Homo sapiens: one gene and its partner. The protein of the gene in region 2 interacts with the protein of the main gene of each other region in a biochemical or structural test. Each region holds a gene or a part of one and is shown on either strand. Other genes may lie near its edges.

Region 1 (2,656 bases), on a different chromosome or scaffold from region 2:
CAGTATGAATCCTGTTAGGTCAGTGTAGAAAATGACCGAGAACCCATCCCCAGCAGTCAGTTTAGCCAGAATTCCCCTTCCCCTGATGTTTCCTCTTGGTAATTTTCCAGCTGCAGATATCCAACCCTGTTCCCTGGCTATCAGCTCCCACTTGCCCCTGCTGTACTCATAGTTGAGCCCAAATGCCCCCACTGCAAAATCCCATAGCTGCAGTCCCTGCAGTGATTGAGAGAGTCCCACTCCCCTTGAACAAAGTCTTCCTTACCATGCTTTAACAAGGGTCATTGAATCTTTTTTTTTTTTTTTGAGACGGAGTCTTACTCTGTCACCCAGGCTGGAGTGCAGTAGCGTGATCTCAGCTCACTGCAACCTCCCTCCGCTTCCCGGGTTCAAGCAATTCTCCTGCCTCAGCCTCCCCAGTAGCTGGGACTACAGGCATGTGCCACCACACCTGACTAATCTTTGTATTTTTAGTAGAGACAGGGTTTCACTATGTTGGCCAGGCTAGTCTTGAACTCCTGACCTCAGGTGATGTACCTGCCTCGGCCTCCCAAAGTGCTGGGATTACAGGCATGAGCCACTGCTCCCAGTCCCATTTTTTTTTTTCTTTAACAGGAGGATAGATTGATGTTTAGAGGGATATTGGTCCGAGGTTTGGGGGGGACCAAACTCTGTGGGCCAAAACTGGGTAATGGAGGAAGTGGAATAAAGTGGTCACTGGTGGGGAAGGGGCAGCCCTCCCTTTGGCCCCCCATAGCCTGAACTTTTCCTGGTCACCCAAGGATGTACAAGACCCCCTGTTGTCCAAGAGGCAAAACTGAAGTCAACCTAACAGCCCATGAAAGAGGCTTCCTGGGGGGCCAGGGGCTGAGGGCAGACAGCTGAGGACCAGCCCCCATCCTGCACTGAGGGATGGAGAATTCCGGGAAGGCTGCCTGAAGGAGACAGCCTTGAAACCTTGAAGGATTCCGCTATCGTTTGTCCATCACATATTTATTGCCTGCACTGGACCTGCAGTTGGGATACTGCAGTGAACAAGACAGAGTCCACCCTGGAAAGTGGCCACAGGGGAAGGCAAGAGGCGATAGCTGGGGGTCACTTGTCACTAGATGGAAGCTCCTTGGTCCACACAGTCCCAAAGAAAGGTCTGCCCTTGGGCCCACGAAACCCATCCCAGCCCTCACAGGCTGAACCTCACCCTGGGTTTTCCCAGAGAGGTGCCCAAGAAGACCCAAGCTGCCCCAAGTCAGAGGAGCAGCAGGAAACAGCCTCAGAAGTCCGTCACTCTTCAGTACTCCTCCCTTAGAATGTCCACTTCCTGTTTGGTGACCATGGCAACCAAAAGACAATGGCAGTGCAGTGCGTGTGGGATGGGGGAGCTCCATCTTCCTTGGGTACATGGGGAGGAGACTCCAGTGACCAGGAGAAGCGGGGAGAGCCATGGGAGATGTTAGAGGGACCCAGAGAAGATGGGGGACAGGAAAAAGGAGAGAATCTGTCTCAAGTAAATGGCCTCCTGCCTTGGACCTCGGCTGAAATGTGGCTGGGCTTCATCCGCGGAGGGAGGAAAGAGGTGGCTCCACTTGCCCGTCTGCTTGGCCCCAGGCTGCTCTTGTCCTGTTTGGGTGGCCAGAGTTCCTTCCCTGAAGATCCCCATCCCCAGGGGTCTCCGAGGAAGCCCAGAGCTGTGGAATGGGGTCTGGGCACTCAGGGGTGGCCCAGGAGAGCCCGTGGAGGTGGGGTCTTGCCAAAACAGATGGCAGAGTGAGCTAAGGGAGGAAGCTGTGCAGGGTGAGGTCATCCCCCTCACGGTCCTCCCTGGGCTCTGGCGTCAGGCCCGGGCTCTTGGCCTTGGACAGGCCCCCATTGGCTGTGGCAGAGGGCCCCTCACCCCCATCAGGCAACAGGGATGAGATGCAGACCATCTCGGTGGGGGAGTAATTACGCACGGGGTACATGTGGCCCTTGCGGGAGAGGCGGACCGCCAGCACCACAGTGCACACGAAGAAGATAGTGGCCACCAGCGCCAAGATTAGGATGGCCAGCAGGCACTGCTTCACAGAGATGTGGTCTGGGGCCCCCACTGGGTAGTTGACGGACAAATTGCTGGCTGCCATGGGAATGCCCTTGTGAGTAACAGAGGACACAGAAAAGGGTATGAACAGACCTCTTTTGGTAGTAGGTTCCATGGACAGGGCCTCTGTGGCACTGGGTTCTGTGGACAGGGCCTCCATGGCTGCCAGTGGAGTGGTCTGTGCCTCCGTGGCTGTGGGTTGAGTGGTCTGTGCCTCCGTGGCTTCTGGTGCAGTGGTCTGTGCCTCCATGGCTGTGGTTTGAGTGGTCTGTGCCTCCATGGCTGCTGGTGGAGTGGTCTGTGCTTCCATGGCTGCTGGTGCAGTGGTCTGTGCCTCCATGGCTGCTGGTGCAGTGGTCTGTGCCTCCAGGCCTGTGGGTTGAGTGGTCTGTGCTTCCGTGGCTGCTGGTGGAGTGGTCTGTGCCTCTGTGGCTGCCAGTGGAGTGGTCTGTGCCTCCGTGGCCGTCAGTCGAGTTGTCTGTGCCTCTGTGGCTGCCAGTGGAGTGGTCTGTGCCTCCGTGGGCACTGGTTGAGTGGTCTGTGCCTCCGTGGCTGCTGGTTGAGTGGTCTGTATCTCCATAG
Region 2 (3,656 bases):
GTTAAACTCACATACCTTTTTTTAATCTCCTTGCCAGCCAAATGATAAATGCCAACCCAGAGAATGCAGTAACCATGACTGCCACTGGAATGAAGAGGGGGTTATAATCACCCTCCTTAATCATTGAGAAACTTTTGTCCAATTCTGAAAGAGAAATCAGTAAGGCACATAGCATGAGACCACCAGCATTATTTCCTTAGTCTATCTCATGATATTTGACTTTTTTCCTCCTTACATCTCCCAGTAGTAGCCCATTTGATGCCATTTGACAGATGAGGAAACTGGCATGGGAAGGCCCCTGATGAGTCTACAGCATAGGCAAAGACTGGACCAGCCTTGCTAGTCTAATGCCTACAGAATCTCAATGCCCAGATTTGTGGTTCATAGAGTTCCTGAAAATGCACCTAAAAATGTTGGCAAGAATGGTCATCGTTGTATTTAGCTCCATGGACTTGTTCAATGACTGGAACTCTGAAACACAGAGAAGAGCTAAAAGCCTAATACAACTTCAGGAAAAATAAAAGCCAATGATCTGAACTGGATAATTCACCAGTCAAAGGAAATCATTAATGCTTTTACTTTAAAGCAGTTGTGCAAAAATAAGCACTTGATTTTTACATGCCAAGGACCTGCACTAATTTCTTTCCAATGCAGTAGTTACCACTTCCCTCTACTTCCTTCACGAATAAGTAAAAGGGCATGTTTAGAGATACTCTTGTAAGTGTAAACTAAGTTCATTTGGGAGCCTCTATTTGAAAATACTGGTATAAAAAAAAATCTGTCTCCTGATACTAACATTTGAAGGAATCTACTTTTTTACATATTGGCAGAGGGTCTGATTCTATCCTTAGTTCTTCCCATTACTTTGATGAACCTTTTCAAGGTGATTTGATCCCCACACCCAAATATATGATTGAGAGAAGGCTCAAGTTCCCAGGAGCTCCAGACAGAAGGTACCTGTTGGCTTGATGAAGATGAGGAGGAAATGAACACTAGCTAGGCCTTAAAGGGAAATGTCTCTGATAGGCCTAATACACAGTCCTCTGCTAAAGGCCTCCCTGCCTCTCTCTGCTCATCCACTCTACTCCCTGGCCCTGGGCACGCAGCACACAGAGATCAGCATTTCTGACAGCTTCTGTAGATCCTACCATTTAAAGACTTTTGTCATCCATGCAGATAGTCTCAGGAGCAGACACAGGTAGCTATTCTTTCACATGCTAGCTTAACATGCATTTGCTTTAGCACCTATTGCCAGGCACTGTGTCAGGTGGAGGGTATACAAAGATGAACAAGACATGATTCTTCTCATATACAGATAGATTTTGGAGGCATTAGCTTAGTGATGATTCAGGAGTATCCATTATTTGGGGAAGTAGGTGGTCATTAGTGACCTTTTACAGGCATTTCAATGGGCTAACAGAGATGTTAGATTGTAGTGGAATAGAAGAATGGGTAAAAAGTAAATCAGTGAGTTCAGATTTTAGGAGTTAAGATGGCAAGAGGTGAGAACAAAAAAAGGAAATGATTGTCATTAAAGGAGGAGGAAAGACCAGCCAAAGATTTTACAGTGAGTTAAGCATACAAATTTATTTCTAGGCCACATATTCTTAGCAAAACAACATGTAAATGTTTATGTATGTCTTTCCTCATATCTGCTCATCCATCAGCTCCATCGTTAAGATTTCAGTTTTCCAGGACAAACTTACTCACTTTGACATATTGGACTAGGATTTGACCAGATTCCAGATGATTCACAAATGGTTTTCTTCTTCCCAATTAACTCAGTTCCTTCTGAGCAGATGAAGGTACATGCAGAGGTAAAGCTGAAGCTGGCCAGGGGATGGCTACAGTTCATGATCCCCAAATCTGGTGCTGATAGAGGCTCACACTGAATCACTTCAATGAAAAAGAAAAAAAAAAAAAAGACAAAACAGTATTTCTGAGTAGAGACCCTCCCTTGAGCAAAGGATTTTTAGCCAAAGCTGCCTGACTACATTACTTGTGATATTGCTTCCAGGCTTTATTTTCTTGAGAATGATGGTGGGTGGTGAATGAGAGATGAAGGCAAGGAAGCATTGAAAGCTGTGGGGAGAGGAGTAGCTACTCCAGGCTGCTGCCCTAGCTAAGGTGACCCTCCCCTTCTGCTGGAAGTACCATGCCATATGGCCTCTGCATCAAGGGCTCTTATGGGATATTCTCAGAGAATCTCTGCCGTTTCATCTGTTCTGATATCTACCCAAGCATTTTGAAAAACATCCCAATTCACTGAAGCAAGTCCAACTTCCGTAAATTCCAGTAGGTGGGTTGACAGTTTTATAATTTCAATAAGGGATTTTGATAGCACTTCTAAGAATTAAACTACTTAAACTAATGCATCAGGAGCATACTTGTAGAAAAGTTAACCAAAACTTCGTAAGTTCAGATGACATTGGTTTTCTCCCATATGGAGATAAGGTTGGCAGTTAAAAATGAAAAAAAAAAAAAAACCTACCTTATTTCAAACTTGAAAAGATCAAGAGATTGTGTTTTTGTTTTTCAGTTGTTATTCTCCTAAAAGTTTATGCATGAGGAAAAGTAAAAGTGATTTTAAGAATAAGCCAAATAAAACAACCAAGAAAGACCTCCACTACCCTGGGAAGGAAACTGGTTGGTATTAAGTAGGACACCACATAAAACAGGTGTTATTGAGAGGAGAAGAACCAAAATGTAACTGAGGTTCAACAAGACATTATTTATGCAATGGCAATGAGAAAAATAAAAAACACAGTATAACCATGCTGTATTGCTATAAGTCATGTTACACACTGGGAGATGGCTTCAGGGGTATTTGGTTTTTACTTTTTGTTTGGGAGGTTTTTCAAAAAAATTTAGTTAGAATAAGTCCTTTGAGAAACATCACAGTAGGTTAAACAAAGTTAGGTTAAATTAGGCTCCTAAGTTTGACTTCTCAGCAAACTTCTACTGAATGTTCTGACTGTAAGCCCAGGATTGCATGACAAAACCTCTAGTCTGAAGTTACTCACCTTGACAGGTTGGTTCTGGAGATGACCAGTTTCCAAATGGTCCACAGGTGGTTTCTTCAATCCCAGTTAAGTTTGTTCCTTCAGAGCAGCTGAAGGCACACTGTGAGCTGAAGCTGAAGTTTCCCAAAGGGTGAGTACAGTCCATGGTACCCAGCTCTGGGGCCTCCAAAGGCTCACACTGAATCACTTCAATAGGGAAAGAAACAGTATGGGGAAGAGTTAAGAGGAACTGACGCCTGGATTTGAATCCTAGCCCTGCCACTTGATAACCATGTGCCTTTAAACAAGGTTACTTGAACCCTCCAACTTCAGTTTCTTCATCTATATAAGAGGAATAATGAAATTGTGTTATCTTTATCAAATTGATATGGAAACTAAATGTAATTCAATTAGCATAAGTCAAGGACCTTAGAACAAAGCCTGACTCATCAGAAATTCTAAGTAAACATTAGCTAGTCTTCATATTATTATCTTCAGCATTATCTGTAGTGAGAATCCTTAAAGCCAAATAGGTGTAACTGGGAATGACCAGCTTAGTCGGGAAATAACTATCACATCAGAGCCCCTGAGTCTACTAGAGTATTGGGAGCAAGATGTTCAGAGAAAGAGTGGGTCTCCATAATAAGCCTTCTT

What was found. The genes of interacting proteins can lie anywhere in the genome.
Region 1: the proteins of SELL (region 2) and SELPLG form a complex in vitro, tested with the Homo sapiens proteins (one large-scale study listed by IntAct).

Annotation. Positions count from the first base shown.
Region 1 is NC_000012.12:108,621,300-108,623,955, forward strand, and holds the end of SELPLG (P-selectin glycoprotein ligand 1 isoform 2 precursor), read right to left. Parts: coding exon 1,770-2,656; 3' UTR 596-1,769; downstream 1-595. UniProt on the Homo sapiens protein: A SLe(x)-type proteoglycan, which through high affinity, calcium-dependent interactions with E-, P- and L-selectins, mediates rapid rolling of leukocytes over vascular surfaces during the initial steps in inflammation.
Region 2 is NC_000001.11:169,701,545-169,705,200, forward strand, and holds part of SELL (L-selectin precursor), read right to left. Parts: intron 3,210-3,656; coding exon 3,024-3,209; intron 1,897-3,023; coding exon 1,711-1,896; intron 145-1,710; coding exon 16-144; intron 1-15. UniProt on the Homo sapiens protein: Calcium-dependent lectin that mediates cell adhesion by binding to glycoproteins on neighboring cells. Mediates the adherence of lymphocytes to endothelial cells of high endothelial venules in peripheral lymph nodes.